7 linked regions of the Homo sapiens genome follow. The protein of the gene in region 5 purifies or fractionates together with the protein of the main gene of each other region. This does not show direct contact. Each region holds a gene or a part of one and is shown on either strand. Other genes may lie near its edges. The genes, in order: POTEF, GPAT4, ZDHHC20, FAM241A, TSPAN8, SERPINA12 and NSUN5.

The links.
Region 1: the proteins of TSPAN8 (region 5) and POTEF purify together in Homo sapiens (affinity purification with mass spectrometry; one large-scale study listed by BioGRID and IntAct). This does not show direct contact.
Region 2: the proteins of TSPAN8 (region 5) and GPAT4 purify together in Homo sapiens (affinity purification with mass spectrometry; one large-scale study listed by BioGRID and IntAct). This does not show direct contact.
Region 3: the proteins of TSPAN8 (region 5) and ZDHHC20 purify together in Homo sapiens (affinity purification with mass spectrometry; one large-scale study listed by BioGRID and IntAct). This does not show direct contact.
Region 4: the proteins of TSPAN8 (region 5) and FAM241A purify together in Homo sapiens (affinity purification with mass spectrometry; one large-scale study listed by BioGRID and IntAct). This does not show direct contact.
Region 6: the proteins of TSPAN8 (region 5) and SERPINA12 purify together in Homo sapiens (affinity purification with mass spectrometry; one large-scale study listed by BioGRID and IntAct). This does not show direct contact.
Region 7: the proteins of TSPAN8 (region 5) and NSUN5 purify together in Homo sapiens (affinity purification with mass spectrometry; one large-scale study listed by BioGRID and IntAct). This does not show direct contact.

What each region holds. Positions count from the first base shown.
Region 1 is NC_000002.12:130,087,723-130,091,222, forward strand, and holds part of POTEF (POTE ankyrin domain family member F), read right to left. Parts: intron 416-3,500; coding exon 345-415; intron 1-344.
Region 2 is NC_000008.11:41,616,200-41,619,699, reverse strand, and holds part of GPAT4 (glycerol-3-phosphate acyltransferase 4 isoform 1 precursor), read right to left. Parts: intron 1,017-3,500; coding exon 888-1,016; intron 803-887; coding exon 723-802; intron 1-722. UniProt on the Homo sapiens protein: Converts glycerol-3-phosphate to 1-acyl-sn-glycerol-3-phosphate (lysophosphatidic acid or LPA) by incorporating an acyl moiety at the sn-1 position of the glycerol backbone. Active against both saturated and unsaturated long-chain fatty acyl-CoAs.
Region 3 is NC_000013.11:21,456,504-21,460,709, forward strand, and holds the start of ZDHHC20 (palmitoyltransferase ZDHHC20), read right to left. Parts: upstream 2,801-4,206; 5' UTR 2,669-2,800; coding exon 2,551-2,668; intron 1-2,550. UniProt on the Homo sapiens protein: Palmitoyltransferase that could catalyze the addition of palmitate onto various protein substrates.
Region 4 is NC_000004.12:112,151,954-112,155,453, forward strand, and holds part of FAM241A (uncharacterized protein FAM241A), read left to right. Parts: intron 1-3,500.
Region 5 is NC_000012.12:71,130,500-71,133,999, reverse strand, and holds part of TSPAN8 (tetraspanin-8), read left to right. Parts: intron 1-1,175; coding exon 1,176-1,307; intron 1,308-3,500. UniProt on the Homo sapiens protein: Structural component of specialized membrane microdomains known as tetraspanin-enriched microdomains (TERMs), which act as platforms for receptor clustering and signaling.
Region 6 is NC_000014.9:94,506,670-94,510,916, forward strand, and holds the start of SERPINA12 (serpin A12 precursor), read right to left. Parts: upstream 2,801-4,247; 5' UTR 2,673-2,800; intron 1-2,672. UniProt on the Homo sapiens protein: Adipokine that modulates insulin action by specifically inhibiting its target protease KLK7 in white adipose tissues.
Region 7 is NC_000007.14:73,306,027-73,310,088, reverse strand, and holds the start of NSUN5 (28S rRNA (cytosine-C(5))-methyltransferase), read left to right. Parts: upstream 1-1,262; 5' UTR 1,263-1,298; coding exon 1,299-1,391; intron 1,392-1,535; coding exon 1,536-1,658; intron 1,659-2,331; coding exon 2,332-2,506; intron 2,507-2,586; coding exon 2,587-2,695; intron 2,696-4,062. UniProt on the Homo sapiens protein: S-adenosyl-L-methionine-dependent methyltransferase that specifically methylates the C(5) position of cytosine 3782 (m5C3782) in 28S rRNA. m5C3782 promotes protein translation without affecting ribosome biogenesis and fidelity.

The sequences.
Region 1 (3,500 bases), on a different chromosome or scaffold from region 5:
CCTGGGTTCATGCCATTCTCCTGCCTCAGCCTCCCGAGTAGCTGGGACTACAGGCACCCACCACCACGCCCAGCTAAGTTTTTGTATTTTTACTAGAGACGGGGTTTCACCATGTTAGCCAGGATGGTCTCGATCTCCAGACCTCGTGATCCACCTGCCTCAGCCTCTCAAAGTGCTGGGATTACAGGCGTGAGCCACCTTGCCTGGCCAAAAGATTCTTAAAAAAACAATCTACTGATTCTCAAAGCCTAGTCTGAAAGGTAATTTCATTTGGACTATCTAATATTATTAAGGCAAAAAAAACACAACATTAAACAAAAGTTTAAATTTAAAAGTTTCCATGCCTCTGGCTGGCCATTTTCACTGCCTTTAAGCCTTTGTGACTCTTCCTCTGATGTCAGCTTTAAGTCTTGTTCTGTTGAAAAATCCATACATTCAGTTAAAATCAACCACTTAAAACAGTTAAAAACTATTGCCTTTTAAAAACAGATTTGAGACATTTCATTTTATTTCATAAATTGAGTGTTTCATCTTTTGTGAAATTGTCATTTAAGAAATAATTCTCAAAAACTTCAAAAACCCACTTGGGGAGATAGCAGATGTCACCAGATTGAAGACAAACAAACATGTCAAAAATTCCCTCACAAATTCATCCACCCAACATCCATGAACAAAACCACCAGAAACACAGCTTTAAAATACAGTAGAAACATATAAGGTGACACAGTGTACTGTTCTCCACTTCCTAATAGTACCTTATAAATGATTTCCAAAATCACTGCTGACACCTTTATTAGTGTACAACATCTTCCTAATATCTAAAATGTTTCTCTCCACTATTCTGACAAATTTATTTTCTTTTTTTCTTTTTTCTTTTTTTTTTTTTATGAGCTAGAGTCTTCCTCTGTCACCAGGCTGGAATGCAGTGGTGTGATCAGCTCACTGCAACCTCCGCGACCCTGGTTCAAGTGATTCTCCTGCTTCAGTCTCCTGAGTAACTGTGATTACAGGCAAGCACCACCACACCCAGCTGATTTTTGTATTTTTAGTAGAGATGGGGTTTCACCATTGGACAGGATGGTCTCGATCTCCTGACCTCGTGATTCCCTCTGAAAGTGCTGGGATTACAGGTGTGAGCCACCACACCTGGCCTTATTTTCATCTTTTGAAACAATGCTATATGAAGTCTTCCTTGATTCTGCATGTCTTTCCCCAAATAAACAGGTACCTCCTTCCTTGAGGCTGCCTTAGTACTTTACTGATTTTTCTACTGCATCTTGACCACCTAAACTGTACATTATTCCTCCACGTCTGTCCCCTCTGCTCCAAGACTGCAGGGGAGAGTCTTGCACATCATCTTTGTAAAAACAGTCTTTGTTTTACTCAGAAATATTTTATTGAGTCCTGCTAAATACATGCTAGGCATTAGGGTTTAAAAAGAATTAAAATAAAGCATGTCAGAGATGGCTTTTCTAGAACACATGCCCAAGCAGAGACTTAAATATTGAGACTAGCCAGATTAAAAGGTGTAGAGGGCAGGAAAGGGTGACGGCATGCCACGCAGCAGCAAGAGCGGGAGCGACTCCTGAAAGAGTGAAAGTATTTGCCTACAATAGAAGGATGAGTGAGTAGGGCACTGCCAGCAGTTCAGTAATGCCAGAGACAGGGCACACAGGGAAAAGGGCTAAAGATGGAGAGTGGGGCAGAAGTCAGATTATGAAAGCATTATGTGTAATTTTAAGATGCTTGAACATTAATGTTCAAAAGTGGTCCCGGGTCCTATCTGCATTTAGATATAGATCATTTCAATGCCAAAACCAATATTCCTAGTGAACAATTATTCATTAAGACAAGGTGACAGATAGCTCATGTGGACACAGCTGAGATGATACAATGTAGCAAATTCTAAACAATTCTCATGAACACTTGGAAAGTCAGTTCTATAATAAAGTCATACAAATTATAATAAATCAGTAAATATTTGGTTTCGGAAGATGCTTTGTAAAGTTATAATGCATATGAATACAATTAACAGTCGTGAATTCAGAGCTGTGAAAATAAATCAAAGAAACCACATTGTGTTTGAGTCAGCAATCTTTAGATTTCTATCCAGTCTTCCCATCCAGTCCATAAATTCTAAGTATAATCCTGGTACTCACTCTCAAGTTTACGTTAAATACTATCCCATTACAAAAAAACACTCTTTCTCTTACTTCTTTTCATTATGTCCTGCTAAAAAGATTCTGATTGGCTGCAGGCGGCAAGAGGGAAAAACAAAAAGCACATTTTGCAGAAAATGATTATTTAGAAGTCAGAACTATGACATGAAGCCAAGCAGGGCACTCTAGGACCGAATTTGCTGTGCTGCCTTCATACGCTCCTTGCTCTTTCTTTTCTGGCAGCTGTGACTCACACAGGTCATGGAGAGTATCATTCCCTAAGAGGAACAACTCCGATATTCATCTTTATCTATTAAGTTCATCTGTCCCAATTCTGTGTTCTGTGGATGCTGACTTTCTGTCACGGACGATGATGCACATGGACATTTATTACTGACTTTCAGATTCTTGGATCTTTGACAAGTCTTATTACTTAGAGTCAAACTAGTAGGATGCGAGTTATAAATGCTGATTATCCAATTACCTACTCAAAATACCCTACACGAATATTCCATTAAACATGCATCGAAAAACATTAGTCATTCCTGCTGACCTGCTGCTCTTTGCTCTCCTGTATTCACCAGAAAATTTCCTACTCCTTCCTCATGTCCAGGTTAAATACTAGTGTGCAATCTGGAAACCTGTACATCATCTGAGATTTCTCTCTGTCCCCCAAGCCTTTCTCATTCAATTATCACTAAATCATATTGACTATACCTCTCTTCTGCCTCTGTTTTATATTCCCACTGCCACTGGGAACACAAACATTTACAAAATGACTTCTATTTAAAAGAAAACTGCCAACTATTAATGTTATTTCTTACAGGAAAAAAAATTAAGCAAAACAAGTGAAAAAGGCATAACGAAGGCCAACATAGTAAAATGAGTAACTGAGATTTCTAACGTTATTTATTTTACCATGGACGGGTGAAAACCTTGTAATACATTGATGCTACTCCAAGGATGTGTGACATGGAAACTATAGCTGACTACTGCAAAAGCTTCCTTTGTCTCCTGGTTTCTTTGCATGATTATCTCCCATCAATCCCAGGAAACTATAGGCCACAGGCCAAATCCAATCTGCATTATGGTTTTGTAAATAAAGTTTTATAGGAGCTCAGTCATGCCTGTTTGCTTACATATAATCATGGTGGCTTTCACACTACAACAGCAGACAACAGCACGGTTAAGTAGATATGACAGAGACCACATAGTCCAAAATATTTCCCACCTGGTCCTTTAAAGAAAAAGCTTGCTAACCCATTTTACACCATAACCAGAATGCCTTAATACTCAAATTTAATCTTGTGGCTCCCCTGCTCAAATTTCTCCAATGAGCCC
Region 2 (3,500 bases), on a different chromosome or scaffold from region 5:
TAAATGCCCCACAGAGTGGAAAACTTTCTCTGAACCAGCATTGACCCCTGTCAGTCTCCTACTGTTTGGGATAAAACTACCTCATACTCTAGTATAAGGGCTGGTCAAATGCAGCCCACGGGCCACATCCAGCTGATACCTGTTTTTGTAAATAAAGTTTTATTGGAACACAGCCATGCTCATTGGTTTATAGACTGTCTGTTTTCACACTACAATGGCAGAGATCATCAGTAGCTGCAACAGACACCATATGGCCTGCAAATCCTAAAATATTTACTGACTACAGAAAAAGTATGTCAATCCTGCTCTATTAGGTAACAAGCTGAATACACCAAACACAACCTTTACCTTTCTAAGAATGGTTCAATTTTGCCAGATACACTGGGACCTGGGAAAGTCCTCCTTCCTTCTTGAAGTTTTCAGATCAGTAGCAGGTCATGCCCACCCAGAGATGGGCACTGTCCAGGTGTCCTGGAAGACTGGTTCAAACCCCAGAAAGGTACACAGAATCAACTGCCTCAGTCCAGGCATCCCTGATCCAGGTTCCCCAAGGTCAAGGAAGCACAGGGCACTTCTGGGTTGGAATTCGGGGAGAGTCAAACTGCTCTCTCTAGAGCTGACAAGTTTAATTCTCCACACCACGGGGAATGACATGTAAGTGAAGTCAATGACACAGCATCTGCTGCAGAAACTCAGCTGAAAAGGCCTGGCTCTAAACTTACCACAGCAGGTCCACAAGTCCTCCCTGCCTGGCAATGGCAGATTTCACCCTATTCGCAAACTGGACAGCATCTTCATCTGCCTGTAAGAAAGAACAAATGAGACCACTCAGCCCCGGCTTGACGTTACACAGAGCAGGCGCAGACCTGCCTGGGGCAGGCACTCACCTCTCTAGTCATGGGAGGCAGGTACCACACGCTGCAGACAATGGCCCAGCTGGTCATCATTCGCAGCAGGTACGTCACCATCCCGTATTTGCTGCTGTTCCAGAAGGCATCGCCAAATTGAGGGTCATACTGAAAACAATGGAAAGCTGGAGGTAAGACATGAGTAGTTCTCACAACGTTTGCGAGTCCACAGTGACTGCTGTGAGTGACTCCACTGGGCCGTGCTGGTACTGGGGTGCTGCTCCCTGACCTTGCATGAGTACTGTGGAAGCCCCTCTCCATGTGGCCGGTTCTGACTGTGAGCAACACTGATCTCCCCCGAGGAACCCGGCCTCTGCTACAGATCAGTAAGGAAGGCTCCCCTGACAGCCTGCCTCAAGCAAATGTCTTCCCTCCTTGATTAGTTTCAGGTCTTACTCATAGGTATATAAAGTTTTCAAACATCTCCAAAACCAGGGAGAAAAGGATCATGCACTCCCATGTACCCATTCCCTGATTCAACCACCGCCAACGTTTCCCACTTGCTCCACCTGTCCCCTCTCAGCATCCTGTCATTCATCTAGTGTACCTCCCCCAAATAAAGATATTTTCTTACACAAACACCAACTTTTAAATATGATTTCTGGTGCCCAGACCAGGGAGGAAACTATTAGAAAGCTTCTACATTTACACTTCCAACAAAGTCAGTCGTCTGTTCAGGAGGCGGCTCTGTGCTCACGCTGACAGCCTTGGGAGGTCTCAACCACACAGGCCTGCATCTACCATGAAGCAGGTATCAGATCCTTTCATTATTTCATTGGCATTTTGCAGAAAATGTAGCTGCAGCTGTGACCCACATTCTCACCAAACAAGTAGCTGGAGGGGCAGGTGAGCAGGGTAGGTAAGCTCTAGAGGAAGTTGCGCAAGGAGCAACAGGAGGACCTGGGTGCTTGAGAATGCCTGGACAAAGTGCCTGGTGCTGCCAGCGAATGTCTGAAGGGATCCTGTACACAAGGCAGTAGGCTGACCTTGTGCAAACACCCAGGACCAGAGTGGAAAAATAAAGGAGCCAGAATTTCAAGAGTTATGCCACACGGCCATGCTGCCAACAACATCAAAAATGCCCTTTCCCTGGGAAAGCCTGAGAAGGAGCCCAGGGCAGGGTCCTGCATGTGGGATGGGCTAGGGTTGAACTCTATGATCTTATAGGCCTTTCCAGCCTAAGTTTTATGATCCACAGTATAAATACTGGACAATTTTGACAAGACTGTGGCCCTAACTACAAAAATGAAGATAACTTAGGCTTAATTATAGAAGCTAAGAAAATTAGATTTAACTACAGAAGACTTAATGTGTTATTATAATACCAACAGAAACAAGGGAAAATAATAAGTTTTTAAAACTAAGCAATGTGTATGATCAGAAAGTATTTTTTTAATTTTAATTTTATATATAATAATATACATTTTGAGACAAGAGTCTCACACTGTCGCCCAGGCTGGAGTGCTGTGGCGCTATCTCGGCTCACTGCAAGCTCCACCTCCCAGGTTCACGCCATTCTCCTGCCCCAGCCTCCCGAGTAGCTGGGGCTGTAGGCACCTGCCACTACGCCCGGCTAATTTTTTTGTATTTTTAGTAGAGACGGGGTTTCACCATATTGGCCAGGCTTGCCTCGAACTCCTGGCCTCAAGTGATCCACCGGCCTCAGCCTCCCAAAGTGCTGGGATTACAGGCGTGAACCACTGCATCTGGTCATGTCGTTGTATTTTATAAAGCCTGATATGGACAGAAATTCTGATGTCACCAGAGTGTGAGAACCCTTTGTTTCGGGCTGATTCTCTATTCCACACTGGGCAGTGTGTGTGGACAGAGAAAAAAGGCAGAAGCTCAACACAGCGACACACTCCTCACATCAGGTCATGGCTGGATTCCGGTGGAAATATAAGAAGAGCCTTGAAATCGCTAAGGTTATCCAAGTTTGATTACCAATAAAGAGTTCACAAAAACCAGTAATCTGTAGACCAGATGTTCTTAGCCATACATGGGCTCTACTCTGTGGACTAAATGGAAATGTATCTAAAATTTATAAGCATTTTACTTTGGAGAGGAGCGGAAACTCCTCAGGGTTCGTGTTCTGACAGCAGCTAAGAGCCACTGCTTCAGAACTGTGGCCGCCACAGTGTGGTCCCAACTGGCACCATCAATGCCACCCAGAACATGTTAGAATGGAAAATCAGAAGGCCCAGCGGGGTGGCTCAGGCCTATAATCCCAGCACTTTGAGAGGCCAAGGCAGGCGGATCACTTGAGTCCAGGAGTTCTAGATCAGTCTGAGCAACGCGGGGAAACTCCGTCTCTACAAAAATTAAAAAATTAGCCAGGTGTGGTGGTGTGCACCTGTAATCCCAGCTACTTGGGAGGCTGAGACACAAGAATCACCTAAATGTGGGAGGTCAAGGTTGCATGAGTCATGATTGTGCCACTGCACTCCAGCCTGGGTGACAGACTGAGACCCTGCCTCAAAAGAAAAAGAATAGGAAGTTCAGAAACCCTGGGTGTGGGGCCCAGCAATCTGCATTTAAACAATCCCTGCAGGCAATGCTGATGCAGCCTAAGTTCAAGAGCTGCTGTTCTGG
Region 3 (4,206 bases), on a different chromosome or scaffold from region 5:
CTATAAAGTAATATATCTATACATATTTCAGTGGGAGGGTCAGTACTTATGAAAACAAATACATACAAGTAGTTTAAAGGATAGTTTTAATATGAGTAAATGCACTTTTATGCTCAACTATTTTATACTCCAGTGACACTGCAGACCTCCCAAATTCTCTCTAGTTAAAATGAGATAACTCAGAAGTTAATACAGCCTCTACATAAGACCTTTCACCACCAAATATTTTAAGATTCTGCCAAGCATCAGGCCATAGTTATAGAATGTTTTAACTTAATGAAATTGTAGGGTATAATCTCTACAGAATGGGCCTCAAGCCTAACTAAGTGATCTCCAAAAATATGCCAACCCCTTTATCCCCCCACACCATTATGGACCAAACAATTACAGTTCCATTGACCCTCATAGCTTACTGAAGTTATATGAAAGAACGGAAAGATGTGGGTCACATTCCAATAATCAATTGTGTGACCTAACCAAAAGGACCTATTCGCTCAGTCTCACGTCCTCCACCTGTAGAGATACCTATGCTGTGACATACTGAAAGAATTAAAGGAGAGGGTGAATGAAATGTCCCCTCTATGCCCACTAGCACATGGCACTTCTCAATTCATGTTCATTTCTCCTTCTTTATTTGAAGTGGTGAAAGAAATCAGAAGCAATTTAAGACTTTTCACAGCACTGTTTGATCTCATTTCTTAATATTTTTGACAAAAACCATCTACAGGTTAAGCTGTGGAATCTCAACATAAATGCACATTTTTAGTGTTCCTTCAGCTTTACTTCAAAACCACTACGGGAATTAAAATACGGTAGGAATAATCTTCTGACAGAATAGGAATGACATAACTTTTAGAATAAATGCCCACTTCAGAGTAAATAAGAAGATAAAGGAGGTATCATCATAAGTTGATGAGAATCCTATGATCACTACCACTTTCTGGAAGTAGCTCCCAGAAATATTAAAATCTAGTAATTTTAATTGACTCAAACATCATTTTTAGTAAACATTCTGGTATCCAAAAGCATGAGACTAAACAATGATATTGAAAAGATTAATATTATTTGGAAATGTATTCCACAACTAATTTATTCTGGGCCTACCTGCAGGGATAGTCGTCCCAAAATTAAACGTTCTATAGGTACAAAGTAATTTTAAAACTGGATGTTTTAATTTCAAAACTTATAAATTTTCTGAGCCAAAGCATTCTCTTCCATGTATAGAACTAGGGTTTTAACCAAATACTTGGTTGAAAGCTGTACAAATCCAAACATAATTGAAGTCTTGATTCTGCCACTTTCAAGAGTGGGTGGTACAGATTCTTCTCATTCATAACATTAGTTTCTAGCTGATGTGGTTCGTTATTCAAAGAACACTTAACAGTCCTTCATAAAATGGTAGATTCAGTCTAAGGACTAAGAGTAGAACATTCTGGAATAACAATAACGTTTACAAACACCACTTACCATTTGGTCCTAGGTTTTCATAAAAAATTGATATAGGCAGCAGATGTATACAGAACACCCTAGTTGAGGCCAGTTTAAGTGTAAAATACCCACATACTCAAAGCCTAAGAACAATTTACTTAAGACAAAACAATGTTGGAGAAATTGCCCAATATCACAAATGTAGCAGTCACCCCTAAACAGTGTTTTTGATTAATGACAACCAATTTCCTTCAATCTTAAAGGCAACCAATTCAAGCCAGTAGGTTAAATCCTTGAAGTATACTGCAATGCTACTCCTTTTTTCCAGGGAATCAGATGAGAATTTTGTGCTAAGAACTTATCAGGAAAATGGAAGTAACGAAAATTAACACGCCAAAATATGAGTATAAGAAATATAAGCCTCCTTAATAATCAGCCAAGAAAAAAATAATCAGGTTATGTCTCCTCCCACCCATTCTTTCTGTCTTAACCTTCTGCAAAAGCCGGCTGGATTCAGAGTAGAAATAAACGAATTTTACAATGAGTCGAGTACCACCAAAAATCAAAAGTGGGAGCTTACTCGTCCTCCAGGTCTGACCCGCCTCCAGCCCGAGGCCACCAAAAGACACACCTCCCTTCCCCCAACCCGCCACAGCCGGCTCTACAGGTAACAGGCGTTTCTTCTCGCGCAGTTTGAACAAAAACAATCCAGAAGGAACAGATTTGGTTTTTTAAAAAAAATGAACAAAAGCCAAAAAAGCCACAAACACAACCTAAACCTTCTAAGAAGCTCGACTACTCCCGTTCTGCACGTTCCTTCCCAGAAGGATGCAGACCCCCGGTGTCGGCGGGAACCAGGAAGCTCTTGGGGCCTCCCTGGGCCAGACCTGCACCCGGGAAGCCGCCGCAAGGCTTCAGGAGCCCCAGGTCGCCCCAAGGCCGCGCCGCAGGATTGAACAAAGCGGCGGGTGCAGCAACCTCGGCGCTTCCGAGCGCGTTCGGGGCCGGACGCCCGGCGTCCGGCGCTGGCTCCAGAAAGGCGGCGGGTGTGGGGCGCAGAGGCCTATCTCGCGCCCTAGCCGCGGCCCGCGCCCCGCCGCAGTCCCCGGGGACGGTACTCACACACGCAGAGCTCCACCACGTACGCGTAGTAGGACCAGACGACCACGAAGGTGATGAAGAGCACCGGCACCCAGCCCACGACGCGCTGGCAGCAGCGCCACAGCGTCCAGGGCGCCATGTTCCGCTGGCGGCTGCCGAGCCCCGCGTCCCACCGTTCTGGGGAGCGCGGGAGCCCCGGCGACGGTGACTCGGACGCTCCAGGCGGCTGCTGGTCCAGCTCCCCCGCCTCCGAGGCAGGACTTGTGGGAGCAAAAGTCCGAGGCGCCGCCGGGACTCCTCCCGTCCCGGCGCCCAGCCAGGCCCCGCCCCCACCCCACATCCCGTCGCCCCCCTCCCCCCGCGTCCGTCCCCGCCAGCCCGCCCGCCGCGGGCCGCGGGCCGCCCCCGGTCTCCGCGTCGTTGGGGCGGGGTTTCCGCGGCCGGGGAGGCGGTGAGGGGGCGGGGCCGCAGCTCGGGACCGCCCATGGGGCGTGGCGGGGCTGGATGCGGACAGGCTGGGCGGACGCGGGAGGCCGGGGAAGGAGAGGCGAAAAACACGCCCTTGATGGATGAGAGGGACAGGGGATAGCTTTTGTGGATCGAGACTCAATAGGGGAGGGAGACTATGGAAATGATTCCTTAGCTGATTTGTGGATCTTGGCCCTCTCTGTGTACAGAACTCGCTCCACTGGGGTTCCTGGGACATTGAGTAGTTGGGGCACTGTTTCAAACATGACAAGGCCATTCCCCACTCAGTGTGCGAAGAATGCACATTGTTAGAAGGCTCCTCCTGTGATTTTTATGTTCGTCCATCTTGGCGGAACCCCTCCCTTTCTTGAAGATGGAACGGTAGATACCTGTAATTTCGGGTAGAAGCCATGTAGGGTCCATCAGTTTGATTCGTAACCCAAATTTAAGATTGAGTAGCGAGAAGGAAAGGGCATGTAAATGACCCTCTCCTTGCCCCGCAAACGACTAAGGAAATTTAAAGAATTTATTTACAACTAGAGGTTGCTAAGCAATGACGATAATCATATAGAACCCAGAAGCATCACTGTGAAGACTTCACAATGCAAGGTCAGACGCATTAGAAGGGATTCCAGACCGCAATCTTCATACCAGTTCCTGCTACTAGCATTCAGTTTTGGTTAGAATGAATTTTTGTGTTTGTTTTTTGAAACAGGGTCTTCTCGCTCTGTCGCCCAAGCTGGAGTGCAGTGGCACGACCTGGGCTCATTTAAGCCTCGACCTCCCTGCTAAAGCACTCCTCCTGCTTCAGCCTGCAGAGTAGCAGGGACTACAGGCCCGCCACCATGCCCAGCTGATGTTTGTATTTTCTGTAAAAACTAGGTTTCGCCCTGTTGCCATGCTGGCCCTGAACTCCAAGGCTCAAGGAATCCCAACCCCTCTCCGCCTCCACCTCCCAAAGAAGTGCTGAGATTACAGGTGTGAGCCACCACGACCGGCCTACACTGAGCTTTAAATTAGCTACTGCTCACTAAAGTCTCCATGAAGAAGACGTCACCCTTTGCTGTGTCAGAGAAATGTAGTAAAAGCGAGTAAGTATTTAATCACTGCACACTGCTGCTTGAGTAATAAAGCATGTATAAAAGATTCTGTTCTCCCTGATTTTGTGCCTTAAAAGTCATATTAGTTAGTGGCCTAGTTGACAGTAGG
Region 4 (3,500 bases), on a different chromosome or scaffold from region 5:
TCAAAACTAAATATTAGTTTATACTCACTTCCTTTCACGTATTTTAAAAGCAGTTTGCAAGCAATATTGTAATAAGTGCTATGAGCTTAGTTGAATTCTGCCCTAACTTAATCTCATCTTGTTCCTAAGGACATCCAGTCACTAGAGTAACTCAGGGAATAATTTTGCATTTGATAGGCATCTTTTGTTCATTTTTTTAAATCATCCAGACTGGAACTTCTAAATCAGTGGTTCTCAACTGGGGGCCTTTTGTCCATAGGGGGCATTTGACAATGTCTGGACATTTTTTTATTGCTGAAACTAAGGAGGTGGTACTGACATCTAATAGGAAAAGGCCAGGAATGCTGGTAAACATCGTATAATGCCATAGTCCCCTACAGCGAAGTATTATCTGGCACAAAATTTCAATAGTGCCAAAGTTGAGAAACAATATTCAAAATATGTAAGGGTTACAGTCCTTTGAGTTGTCAAAAGTAATTACTCTGATAATAGATATTCCAATAGATAGGTTAAAATTGTTTATTTGCTTGAAACCTGTATTTTAAACAGAATTTCAAACTTTTCTCTGTGTCTCTTCTAGCAGCTCCTCGTATGCAACTTGCTGTATTTTGCTTTCTCACACATTCCTTTTCTGCCTTTCTTTCCTACCACCCATCTCCTTTCTGTCTCTGTTGAGTCTCGTTCTCTCATGTGTTTTTTCCCTCCCCACGCATCTCAACCACTTTCTCTTCTTCTGCATACATCTTCCCCTACCTCTTCCACTTCAGTGCAGAAGCTGAGCATTATGAAACAATGAAAAGGGGGTTGAAGTATGACAGATCTAATTTTGAATCCCGGTTTTACTCTTTATTAGCCCCCGTGATCCTGATTACTTAATCCGTCAGAGATTCAATTTCCTCATTTGTAATGGGTATGATGCTACCCACCTCTTAAAGTTTTTATGAGGATTCAGTCTCATTTTGTATGTAAAATGCCTAACACATGGAGGCACTCAATAAATATTTGCTCCTTATTTCTCCCTCACCTTTTCTATTTTTCTTCTTTTTCTCTGGTTTTCCTCCCCTTATTTCCCTCAACTAACACATCATAGAACTGTGTTTTTAGTACATGTAATTCTCAAATTTATAGAATATTTATTGAACAAAGTGTTAAGATTGTGAAACAATGTATCTAATGTTTAGAATAGACAATCTCTAAAGAAAAAATTAAACCTGTCAACCTAAATTATGTTGTTTTTTATGTAGATCTCTAGTTGGTTTCTTTTCCCCCTTGTTGCTCACTAATCCTTGAGAGGAAAAATACCCACCTCCTCTGTACAAACTATTCTCAGTTTCCTATTCAAAAGAAGTGATAAGGCAAGATTAAAAGGAAAAACTCAAAGTACCATGACATCAGTCTTGCTGTAACAGAAATATGTAGAAATTCTGTGTCTCTATTCATGTGTTCTTTAAGACTTAGCAACACTGTCTTCATTTTCTGTCTTTTCTGGAGTCATAATCTTATCTTCCAGTAACAGCCACCTATCTCCGAAAACCTTGTTCCTACTAGTTATGTTTTATTTCATTGTGTTTATGTGTGTTTGAGAGAATTAATAAGACATTTGAAATGTAGCTTCTTTTGAGCAGATAAACCGAGTTTCTAACCAACCTGATGCAGAAGATACTTTCTATCTTCTGATCTTTTTCCCCATACCCAGTGTTTCCCCCGGCACCGCCCCCAGCCATTTAACTTCATTGGCAGCTGAGTCTTATCTTGGCATAGGAAGAGGAAGTGATTGGCTTTATTTCTTGCTGTTTTCTTAGGGCAACAACTGCAGCTTATCAGAGTTCTAATCAAAAGGAAAGCATGGTACAAATGTTTTTAACTTTATGGAAAATAAAGGATAAAATTATCATTAATACTTAATATCTAAACATAATGTTAAGAAAGTTAAATTCCCATTGTGGTTTTTACAGTATTTATTTTCATGTAACTTTTTAAATATCTGTGTTTGAGAATTTCTTTTATTTCCTCTTCCAATTAATCCAAAATAATTTAATTTTTGTTTTGTATCCTCTTAATTAAATTTTACTTGAATGTCTGCAGATGGCCTACAGAGGTAGGGAATTTAAGTTTGATGTTGCATGATTGCAAATTCCATCAGTCTGACTGAATTGAGGATTTCTTATTCCATGAGTTTTAGAGGTAATAACAGCAGAAGCGAAATTTTCACTGCCACAAATTGAGAATTGAGAAGGAAAGTCATTTTTCAGGAGAGATATTTGATTTTGACTACTTTTTTCCCCTAAGTTTGATACTTTATTTTTTAAAATTTATTTCTTATTTTTTTATTTTTGAGACAGAGTCCTTTGTTGCCCAAGCAGGAGTGCAATGGTAGGATCTCAGCTCACTGCAACCTCCACTTCCCAGGTTCAAGCAATTCTTGTGCCTCAGGCTACCGAGTTCCTGGGACTACAGGTGCATACTACCATGCCTGGCTAATTTTTGTATTTTTAGTAGAGATGGAGTTTTGCCGTGTTGCCCAGGCTGGTTATGAACTTCTGGCCTCAAGCAATTTCCCTGCCTTGGCCTTCCGAAGTGCTGGGATTACAGGCATGAGCCACCGTGCCCAGCCTGGCTACTTTTAATGGATAAGTTTACCCATCTTGTAGTAGCATCTAGCATATTGTCCTGCATATGCAAGGTACTAAGTAATGTCACCAGAGATTTCATATTTTTTTTTAAAAAAGTAGATTCTTGAAAAAGTATAAAATGTAGAAATGTCTTAACCTGCAGTTTGAAATCAGAAAGAGGCTTGAGCAGGGTGTGGTGGGTCATGCCTGTAATCCCAGCACTTTGGGAGGCTGAGGTGGGCGGGTCACCTGAGGCCAGGAGTTCGAGACCAGCCTGGCCAACATGGCGAAACCCCGCCTCTCCAAAAAGATACAAAAATCAGCCGGGTATGGTGGGGAATACCTGTAATCCCAGCTACTCAGGAGGCTGAGGTAGAAGAATCGCTTGAACCCAGGAGGCAGAGGTTGCAGTGAGCCAAGATCGCAAACTGCACTCCAGCCTGGGCGACAGAGCAAAACTCCGTCTGCGCCCACCACCCTCCCCCGCCACAAAAAAAGAGGCTTGAGTTAGGCATATTCTTGAGTTCGTGGCCCACAGTTATATATCATTAGTTCATGAAAAGCCCTTCTCTTATTTAATTATTTTTCCATTGCATAACCATTTCTTTCTCTACAATAGGCAGCTGTTCCAATACGTCTGTTAGATATTACTGAAATTGAGTGTATCTTTTTGACTACCTGGTGGTTTCATTTGTGTGTCTGCAATTATGACTTATAATTTTAAAAATATTGAAGCCCGGTAGTTAAAATGAAAAATGAATGCAAATTTTGGTATTTTTCTGTTTATAATCATTTCAAAGACTAAGTTCTAGTTGATATTCTCATTGTTTTTATCCATCCCCTCAAAAAAATCTTTTTTCTTTTATTGGGTCTATGTAGTTTAGTGGG
Region 5 (3,500 bases):
GTAAGTGAAAATTCTTTCAATATCTTGGCATTGCAATGTATCAGAGCTGGGAAAACCACTCAGTCTTGGTTCTGTTTTTCTCAGCCATTTTTTTTTCCTCCCATTTCTGCACGAAGTGTTTTCCCCTTAATTGAGCAGATGGAAGCAACATGAGGGATAATTATCTTTCTTTCTCCCATCTAATAATATCATGTGCCACATGCCCTGATTCTTGGGGTTATCATTTCCTTGTTTTTCTTCCTCAAATGTGGCTGCAAACCCTCTTTTTTAGTGTTTTCCATGGATCAGTTTATTCTGGGACTGTAACTTTCCTGACATTCTAAGAGCTTCATTCTTCATTTGTGTTCCCTCCCATATTTTAAAGATGTTCATAAAATTCAATCTTATGGGAGGCTCCTTGAGCATCTATTTGGGTCTTTGCAATATCTCTCATTTTTTTCCTCCTGTCTTTCAAAAGTGATCAGAGATCATGGAGTGGAAATTTCACTTTTAAAACTTCATGTCTCTTTTGAGCAACAATTCTTTGACTCTCTTGTGAATTCTTTGGAAACTTTTTTGACAATATCTAAATTACAGAGATCTGACTCTCTTTTGTCATTAAAAACTAGTAGGTGAGGCTGGGCACCGTGGCTTATGCCTGGAATCCCAGCACTTTGGGAGGCTGAGGTGGACAGATCACGAGGTCAGGAGATTGAGACAATCCTGGCCAACATGGTAAAACGCGGTCTCTGCTAAAAATACAAAAATTAGCTGGGCGTGGTGGTGCAGCATGCCTGTAATCCCAGCTACTCGGGAGGCTGAGGTAGGAGAATCCCTTGAACCAGGGAGTTGGAGGTTGCAGTGAGCCGAGATCGCGTCACTGCACTCCAGCCTGGTGACAGAGCAAGACTCCATCTCAAAAAAATAAAAATAAAAAACCTAGTAGGTGAGTTTTTCATCTTCCCAACTTCTTCAGATTTTTGAGTCTGCAACTCCATTTTTCCATCATTAATGTAAAGATCAAAATGCAAAAATCCTTAATTTTTACTTCTACACAGAGAAAGGTGAAAGGTGACTTACATGGTATTTTAGCATAATAACCTTTAATAATGATTTCAGAAGATTATAATTTAATGTATTGCCAATGTTTTTAATCTTCTTACTGACTGCTTCTCATTCTACCTTTTATCAAACAGTTTAAATGCTGCGGTTTGGTCAATGGAGCTGCTGATTGGGGAAATAATTTTCAACACTATCCTGAATTATGTGCCTGTCTAGATAAGCAGAGACCATGCCAAAGCTATAATGGAAAACAAGTTTACAAAGAGGTGAGAACTAAATCACATTTGGTACAATAAGCAATTCTGTTACTTTCTTTTCACAATTAAAGTCCCTACAAAAAATTAAAATGCATGGAGTACCATGGGAATCATGATATAAAAATCTCAGAAATTTCCCAAATTAAAAAAATCCTTATTTAAAGATAAAAGCAGATAGACTTCATTTCTTCTATGAGTCTGGCATCATTTAAGCCCAATATTAATAGGTCAAAGAAACATTCTACTGCAATGGGAGGCAAAGTACAAACTAACATAAAAGTTTATTTTATCCTCTCTTTGGTCATCTTAATCATTATTCTCTTTTATTTTTTCCTACTTTAACATAAGTTCTAGAAAACAATATTTTCACTACAATTTTCAATGTTTTTTGTTTTCTAATCAAATTTCCTTTTCTCAAGAAATGAGGTTTCTTCTTTCCCAAAATTTAAAGAAAGGACTCCAAGTCCTTCCCAAATACATTTAAGGGTTTAGGTTCTCTATGTTACTGACAGCTACCAATTTACCTAGTTATTGCTGCAATTGAGAAGTTACCTTGAACATTTAATGTCAATTGAAAAAGATAGGTTAATCTTTTATGTGTTGTAGATGTCATATTTATGTGACTTGTGAATGTCAATACATGGATGTCCTAGTTCTTCTTATTGATCAGTTCATCAAATACTTACTGACCACCTCCTATGCGCCAAGCTTTCTACCAGTCACCGGGAATTCATTCCTGAACAGAGCACAATGTCTGCGCTCATGGAGCTGATGCTCAAGTAAGGAAGAGAGAAAGATAGTTAGGCAACTTCAATCCAATGGTCTACTAGTATCTCTTGGATAGAGATGGGTGCAAGGTGTTATGGGACCCCATCTCACTTAGTCTGTGGGGTTCAGGATATGGCTTCATGAAGAACATGACATCTGTCCCTTCATAAGTTGTTCGTTCTGCTTAGAAGAAATGTGTACAAAAATTACAATTGATATTAGTATTTCATTTATTTACTGTTATTCTTCAGTGCCTACTACATGTCAGACAGACCCTTGCTAGGATCAGACATGCTTCTGGATCCTCTAGGAGATTACAATCTAGTTGAGAGGCAGATACATTAAAAACCACTATAAATCACAATGAATTAATATTAATATCTATAATACCCGAAGATTCTTTTCAATCTAGAAATGTTTTGGTTTAGTAACTGCTACTGAAAATAATTTATAAAAGGAAATAGAAAGTATCTCAGGGGAAACTACCCTTTCCTTGACTACTGATCTTTTTCACTGATCTTATCAAAATTAAAGAGGCTCTGCCCTGAAGGGGAATTGCTGTCATTAATACTTAAAGTATGTCGCTAAGATTTAAAGTAACTCAATAAATAATCTACCAGACTACAGGTTATATTGCGTTTTTCATTGTCAAAGTAATATTACTAAAAAAAGTTTGATTCTTACTTTTTATATTCTCCCTGCTCCCCTCCTCCCTACCTAATGTTAGTGACACAGTATTTACAAGGAAAAGGGGAAATAAATATAGAGTAAATAAAAATAGTTTCCACTTAGGATAATGAGGAAATAAGTAAATTCAATTGCAGATTGCTATTTGTCTCCTGTTCAAATTCAACTGAAAGATGTTTTTCCTCAAGACAGATTCTGAAAAGCCCCTGGAATTATTCTAAAAAAACTATTAGATAGTTTCTGTAAGTTCACACATAATTCAGCTGAATATAGGCTGATAGCTACACCAGTTTCCCAAAAGGAAGGTTGTAAATTCATAAAATACTTCCATCTGCCATGTGTCATTTGCAAGAAGTCTGGTAAAATAAAAAATATGGAATGGCCATAATTCACATTTCTTTTTTTTCCTCTTCCTTTTGCCAAGATACCCTCATTATCTTAGGCAAAGAGGAAGAGAAAAACCCCTGAAACATAATGAATGTGACTCAGTAGATATAATCATTAATCTCATTGTTAACCTAAATGACATAATAATTTCCTTGAATGTTTACCACGTTGGGTTAAATGTGAATGAAGAAACTCAATACATTCAGGAATGAAGGGGAAAGATGACTTAGCCTTCTGGAGAAATTTTATTTTATTTAACAAATAGCAATACTTTGTTAGCCCTTTGCACATATATGACCATCAAAGGGATAATATATTTCAGGGCAGTACAAAAATAACACAATTATACTGTGTAGTCTT
Region 6 (4,247 bases), on a different chromosome or scaffold from region 5:
GTTTCCATCCTGGGAGTGCATTACAATCATCCAGGAGCTTTAGAAATACCTATTTTCAGAACATTCCTCTAGAGATTTTGAGTTAGTTGATGCAGGATAAATCCTGGGTGAGGGTGCCTTTAAGAACTTCTCTCCAGGGGATTTAATGAGTACTCAAGGTTGAGAATCCCACTCCAAAGCAAGTGATTCCCACCTGATGATTCCCAGGTCTTTTAAAGCATTCAGCCACCAGGTATCAAGATGGCTGTAAAGCCACAGTATTAAGGTATTGGAACAGAGACAGACAAGCTGACCAATGGAACAGACTAGAGAATCCAACAGAGCCACACAGGAAGTCACCTGATATGTGACAAGGGCATCGCTACAGTTCAAAGGAAAGGATGATCCTTTCAATGAATGATGAAAACAACAACAACAACAACAAAACACCAGTGGATGTCCATACAGGAAAAATATAAATAGTGACTATTTTACTCAACATACAAAAATTAATTTGAGAAGTCACAGACCTAAATGTGAAAGGTATTAGATTGGACTATATGAAACTATTGGTCTTTAATATTTTTTAACCTCAAAACCCACAAGAATCAAAATGATAAAGCTTCTAGAAGAAAATATATTAATAGTAGACAATCTTTGTGACCATGAGATAGGCAGAAAGTATTAACCATTTTTACAAAATGATAAATGGAACTTCATTAACATTAAGAGCCTTGTTCCTCTAAAATTACCTAGGACAGTACAAAGGCAAGTCACAAGCTGGGAGTGGTACGTGTAATGTCTGTGTCTGATAAAAGGCTCATGCCTGTTTTTAAGCACTTCTACAAATCGACTGAAAAAAGACAACAACTTAAAAACTAAGCAAAGACATGAACAAATACTTCACAAAAGAAGATATCCAAATGGCCAATAAGCAGCTGAAAAGGTGCTCGACATCATTAATCATCAGAAACATGCAAAACAAAACTACAAGAAGAACTCACTACACACCCACTAGAATAGCTCAGATTAAAAGGACCAGCCACACGAGGACGTGGAGCAAGTGGAACTCTCTTATATTGCGGGTGGGTGTGCAAACCGACACCAACGTGTTGATTGGAAAATTGCTTGGCAGGATCTATAAAAGGTAAACATATGCTTACCCTTTGACCCATTCATTGTACCTCAGGGTATATGCCCAACAGGAAATGAGTGCTTGTGGGTTTACCAAGACATGTACTGCAATGTCCATAGCAGCTTTATGTGATAGACCTAAAGTGGAAACAACCCAGATGTCCATTTATAGTAGAGAAGGGAGAGAGAGAAAGAGATTCCTGGCCACCATCCCAGATCATACTTTGCATTTCCCTGGGTGTCCCCACTCTTCTTTGGTTTCCACAGGATCCCCAGTTGATGCTTGTGACAGACAGCTATGGGAGCCAGTGACCAAGAGTGTGAAACACTGCAAAGCCCAAATCCCACTAGAACAAATTATACTGTACCTCCAAGCAATAAGGCAAAGACTGAGTAAATGCAATGTATTTTCAGTCATTGAATTCAACTCCAATTGGGGAGCTTAATCAATAAATGATTTAAAATTAATAATAATTGATTTTGAAAGAAAATATTTTTAAGCAATCTCCGGTAAGATCCTAGGTTACCCTAAAAAGCTTCTAGTACAAAATGTTGAAAATCTTTCCACACAAAAATCTAAACAAGTAAGAAATAAAAGGAGAGAAATAGAAAATTTAGAAAATTTTTTTTTAATGGGAAGCATTCTGTAAATAGTAAAAAATTCAAGATGGCATTTCAGAACATTCGAGAAAAGGTGAACAATTCCATAAATGCTATTAGGAAACAAACAAATCATTTCAAAAATAAAATTACAAGTGTTGGAATAAAACCTTTTCATAATGTTAGAGTGAAAAAGAACTTCCTAAGTGTGATACACAAGCCAGAAACCATGTAGGAAAAGATGGCATATATGGATATACCATCTTTTTGCAACGTGTTAAAACTCTACAGAATATGTAAAATTTGGAATCACAAATTGGAACATGTGTACAAGATAGAGAGCTAATGTTCTTAACAATTAAGAGTTCTTATATATATCAATAAGTAACCACATGTGTTTCTCAATCAGCAAAAAGTAAAAAATTTGGGTAAATATGCATTGAAACATTGTGGGTGGGGGCCAGCTTTGATTTTCCTCATCTTATTTTCTTCTTTGTCTTTGTCTCTGCAGAACAGGGTACTTCCATGCACATATTAGTAGATACGGTTATTCATAGACATTATGTATTTTTCATACCAACTTTGCAAGTTTGGGTGCTGCTAGACCCATTTTTACACATGAGAAATCTGAGTTTCCTATAGCTGCACAGTTAGCAGATTCAGGACTCAAAAATCAGGTCTTCTGGTTCTGAATCCCTTTTTCCATGGATAGCTTTCTGGTAGACCATAAATGAAAGCATGGCCACAGCATCTTGGCAGCCAGCACAGACCCATGGAACTCTTGGCCAGACTGGTGATCCAGCCCTAGGGCTAGGCATGAGAAGGACGCAGAATGTCTGTCTATTTGAGTGATCACCTTGGCCCTTGGTTGTCTTCTCTAAGACAGAGAAACAGACAACACACACACACACACACACACACACACACACACACACACACACACTGCCCCTTGGACTAACCTCACCTCCCCAGTTTCTCCTTTCCCCTCAGGTCAGTCTTCCTTGGCCTTCCCCAGTTGTTGCTGATCCCAGCCTCCTAGTCCTTTTTCGGTCCTGGTCCTGCAGCCTTCAGGTTCCAGGTATGTTCCTCTAGGCTCCCAGCCCCACAAGCCTTATCTACAAACTGGGTGGACTTCTGCCCAACGACCTACTAAGCCTGCCTCTGCCACCTCCACCCCTTTCCCAGGATCAGCCTGGCCAACTGGCCCTGCCAAGTGTCTCACTCAGAGAGCAATGCGTCTGGGAGTTCCCTTCCTCACCCCTTGGGAAAGATCAGGCCTACTTTTTCTCTCCCATCCCAAATAGCAAGGGGCACTGTGCTAGGTACACCCAAGGTGCTCTGTAGATTCACTGATGAGGGCCTGGCTTGCTAGGACCTGAGTGTTTGGCACCCAGTAAACCTCATAAAAGTGAGTGCACCAGAAACCAGAGTGACACACGCCATCCCCTCCCAGCTCCACAGCCCTGATCCCTGTGATCATCTTTGAGCAGAATCGTCCACCCCAGATTCCTTCCCTGGGACAGGACAGGAATGGGTGTGGGCACCCTGGCACTGCTATAGAATACCAGCCGCCTGGCACAGATGTTCACATGGCCCTCTCTCACCTCCCAGGTGCAGCCTGGGAGCAGGCAGCCCATCCATCCAACCCCACCCCACTCCCGAGCTCTGGGACGTCTCAGGGCCTGGGCCTGTGGTCTGGGTACCAGACATAGGTGACTCATAATGCACCTGGTGGCTGGAGAAGCCATCCCTTCCTCTGGTTCTCAGTGTACTCACCTGTACAATGGGCAATAGGAGACTGCATTGGATCTGTGGTTGCCTGAGAGAGCCAAACTATTGGAAGTCATGCTGTCAATCAATTTCACTTAAAATAATATAGACCCAAGTCCGTGCTAAATGTCATTCAAGCCAGATCTAGATGCTGGTAGAAGAGCAGAACAACAGAGGATATAAAAAAAGAGCATTTGCTCAACATTACTAACCATCAGGGAAATGTAAATGAAAACCACAATGAGATACCACCTTACTCTTACAAGATGGCCATAATTAAAAAGTAAAAAATAAAAATAAAAAAAATAGATGTTGGCATGAATGTGGTGAAAGGGAACACTTTTACACTGCTGGTGGGAATGTAAATTACTACAACCCCTATGGAAAACAGTATGGAGATTCCTTAAGGAACTAAAAGGAGAGCTACCATTTCATCCAGCAATCCCACTACTGGGTATCTACCCAGAGGAAAAGAAATCATTATATGAAAAAGACACATGCACACACATGTTGCGTAATTTCAAAGATATGGAACCAACCTAAGTGCCCATCAAACAATAAATCCATAAAGAAAATGTGGTATATACACACCATGGAATACCACTCAGCCATAAAAAGGAATGAAATAATGTCCTTTACAGCAATTTGGATGGAGGTGGAGGCCATTATTCTAACTAAAGTAACTCGGGAATGGAAAACCAAATATTGCATGTTCTTGCCCATAAGTGGGAGCTAAGCTGTGAGCACAGGTATAAGAATGATAT
Region 7 (4,062 bases), on a different chromosome or scaffold from region 5:
TAGGATTACAGGTGTGAGCCACCACACCTGGCCAGACTGATCTTTTAAAGAAGTATATGTTAGCACAGCACTCCATGACTTAAAAACCTTAAGAGGACTACCATTTCTTTCAAGATAAAAGAATAAAATCCTCGCTGGGCACAGTGGTTCATGCCTGTAATCACTGCTTTGGGAAGCCGAGGTGGGAAGATCACTTTAGGCCAGGAGTTCGAGACCATCCATGGGCAACATGGTGAGACCACATCTCTACAAAAGATAAAATTAGCTAGGAGTGGTGGTGCATGCCTGTAGTCCCAGCTACTTGGAGAGTGAAGTGGGAGGATCGCTTGAGCCCTGGAGTTTGAGGCTGCAGTGAGCTATGACGGTGCCACTGCACTCCAGCCTGGGTGACGGAGTGGGACCTCATCAAAAACAAAAACAAAACCGTTATTGTGGCTTTGAGGCCTGGATCATACCTACATCACTTAATTTGGCCAAACCGGCCCATTTCAGGTACCCAAATACCCCACGTGCTTTCTTGCTTGGCTCTGGGACTAATGTGGTTACTGGTGCAGGGTGAATGGCAGGTATTGTAAACCACATTGTGGACCTAGAGTTGCTAGGACCTTTTTTGCCATTACACAGAAGCCTCCCTGAGAACACAGCCATTGGATGACACATGGCAGAGGAAGATAAGACAATAAACGGAGACACAAAATTATGGCCAGCGCGGGGGCTCATGCCTGTAATCCCAGAACTTTGGGAGGCCAGGGTGGGCAGATCACCTAAGGTCAGGAGTTCAAGGCCAACCTGGCAAACATAGTGAAACCCCATCTCTACTAAAAATACAAAAATTAGCCAGGTGTGGTGGCGTGGGCCTGTAGTCCCAGCTACTCGGGAGGCTGAGGCAGGAGAATTGCTTGAACCCGGGAGGCGGAGGTTGCAGTGTGCCGCGATTGCGACACTGCGCGACAGAGTGAGACTCTGTGTCAAAAAAAAATTATATATATATATATATATATATAATGACTAATACACATGTGAAGATATTTAACCTCAGTAACTTCAGTTAAACAGCAGTAAAATCCCATTATTTGCCCATCAGATTGGCAAAAACTTAAGAACTAGAGAAGAAGTGGCGAAACGGGCTGCAGCGTCGCACTCCCTACCCCGGCAGGTGCGCGATCACACACACGCCTTGCAGGGCGACTTCGACCGGCACTTCCGGTCCCGGAAGGTCGTGCTTTTTGACCCCGGAAGTCCGGGCGGGCGCCGAGCCGGGTGCGTTTTGCCACAGAGCCGTAAAGGCGCGCGGGAACATGGGGCTGTATGCTGCAGCTGCAGGCGTGTTGGCCGGCGTGGAGAGCCGCCAGGGCTCTATCAAGGGGTTGGTGTACTCCAGCAACTTCCAGGTAGCGGACCTGGGCGCGAGTAGTAGGGGTGGGGAGTGAGGAACCCGGGGTGGGGTCGGACGGGCCCGGGTGGGGTCGGGAGGTGGGGCCCGGCGAGGAGGGCCGGGGGAGCCCCCACCCAGCTTGTCTTCCTCGGCCACACAGAACGTGAAGCAGCTGTACGCGCTGGTGTGCGAAACGCAGCGCTACTCCGCCGTGCTGGATGCTGTGATCGCCAGCGCCGGCCTCCTCCGTGCGGAGAAGAAGCTGCGGCCGCACCTGGCCAAGGTGAGGGGAGGGGAGGGACGGGGAAGTGAACCCCGACGGTCAGCGCTTTGTCATCTGGTCTCAGCTCTGCTGCCGTGCACGGCGGGACTGGAGCAAGTCGCTCATCTGAAATGAGTATGAGCCGACCTTCCCTGGGTTACGAATTAAGATGGGATGAAAATGCTTTAACTTTGAGTGTTTTGAAGGATTAAATAACCGAAGTACAAAGTGGTAGTGGCGGAGACTGTAAGGAAGTCGGGCGTGGCGGCGCGCACCTGTGGTCCCAGCTACTCGGGAGGCTGAGGGAGGAGGATCACTTGAGCCCAGGAGGTCGAAGCTGCAGTGAGCTATGATCTGGCCACTGCACTTCAGCCTGGGCGACAGAGCTAGACCCCATTCTAAAAAGAAAACCCAAACCCACGAAAGGGTAATGTTGGCAAGAAGTTGGGTGCAGAGGTGTCTACTGGTGAACATCGGTGGAGAAAGGGTCTAAGGCTGGGAAGCGAGACGCCAGGTTCCGATCCTGTTCTGTAGTTAATTTCTGGTGTGATCTTGGATAAGGTATCCCACCTGTATCTTGTCAGGTGATCTGTTTAGCCATTCCATTGCCGGGGCTCCATTAGAGTTAGTTCTAAGGCATTCATGCTTCATGCTTAGGGCATTTTTGTTTTTGTCTTTGTTCCCTCATTCCCAGGTGCTAGTGTATGAGTTGTTGTTGGGAAAGGGCTTTCGAGGGGGTGGGGGCCGATGGAAGGCTCTGTTGGGCCGGCACCAGGCGAGGCTCAAGGCTGAGTTGGCTCGGCTCAAGGTTCATCGGGGTGTGAGCCGGAATGAGGACCTGTTGGAAGTGGGATCCAGGCCTGGTCCAGGTAAGCTGGAAGGAGTTGGGGGGTGGGGGAGGCGGGGAACTTTGCTCCTGCCTACTCACTGCTCATTGCGTCCTACGTAGCCTCCCAGCTGCCTCGATTTGTGCGTGTGAACACTCTCAAGACCTGCTCCGATGATGTAGTTGATTATTTCAAGAGACAAGGTTTCTCCTATCAGGGTCGGGCTTCCAGGTGAGAGCTTAGAGCCCTGGCTGTCCTCATCTAGGGAGGTGTCTGGGGTATTGGGAAGAGAAGTGGCTGGATAGTTGTGACTTTGCTCTCTGGGCTTTCTTCCTACCTTTCCAGCAGTTTATCCATCTCCAAGGTTTGTCTTCCTGCCATCCCTTAAACATCGAACTCCTAGGAGCCTCATCCTACATTCTTCTTGATCTCTCCGTTTTTTCTCTAGCTTTAACTCCTGCCTCCCACCTGGTGATTCTCACCACCCAGTGTAGACTTCCCTCTTGCATTCTTACCTCCTCAGGTTCATATGAACGCACCACAGATGCTAACAGTCGCTGCATTTGTCATCTTTCCTCTCAGACTTTACACCTAGTACATCCCCAGTTAAATCTAACAGATGTCACCATCTTCCACCCATTTGGTCAAGCCAGAAACTGAGTCATCCTAGGTGCTTCCTTCTCCTCCCTCCAATCATTTACTCCCCTACCTTGAGCATCTTTCTCAGCTCCACTCCTTTCTCTCTTTTTTTTTTAGACTGAGTCTCACTCTGTCATCCAAGCTGGAGTGCAGTGGCATGATCTTGGCTCACTGCCTCCCGGGTTCAAGCGATGCTCCTGCCTCAGCCTCCTGAGTAGCTGGAATTAGAGGCTCCCACCACCAATGTCCAGCTAATTTTTGTATTTGCAGTAGAGATGAGGTTTCACCATGTTGGCCATGCTGGTCTGAAACTCCTGAACTCAGGTGATCTGCCCGCCTTGGTCTCCCAAAGTGCTCGGATTACAGGCGTGAGCCACCACATCTGGCCTCCACTCCTTTCTCTTCAGCCCCTCGGACACTGCCTAGGTTAAGCACTCATTTCTTATTGGGATGACCACAAGAACTTCCCAGACTGGTTTCTCTGCTTCCAGACTGTCTCACTGCATTTTCCTTGAGGTTGACTGTAGGAAGCTCTAAAGCCAGATCTGATGCTGTTACTCCTCTGCTAAGCTTTTTTTTTTTTTTTTTTTTTTTTTTTTTGAGACAAGGGTTTTGCTCTTGTTGCCCAGGCTGGAGTGCAATGGCGCAATCTCGGCTCACTGCAACCTCTGCCTCCTGGGTTCAAGCAATTCTCCTGCCTCAGCCTCCTGAGTAGCTGGGATTACAGGGATGCAGCACCACGCCCGGCTAATTTTGTATTTTTAGTAGAGACGGGGTTTCTCCATGTTGGTCAGGCTGGTCTCGAGGCTCCTGACTTCAGGTGATCTGCCCGCCTCGGCCTCCCAAAGTGCTGGGATTACAGGTGTGAGTCACCGTGCCCGGCCATGCTAAGCCCTTTCTTGGCTCCACTGTGCTGTCCCTCCTGCTTTCTCTCAGGTCCATCTGCCACGGTGCTGCGT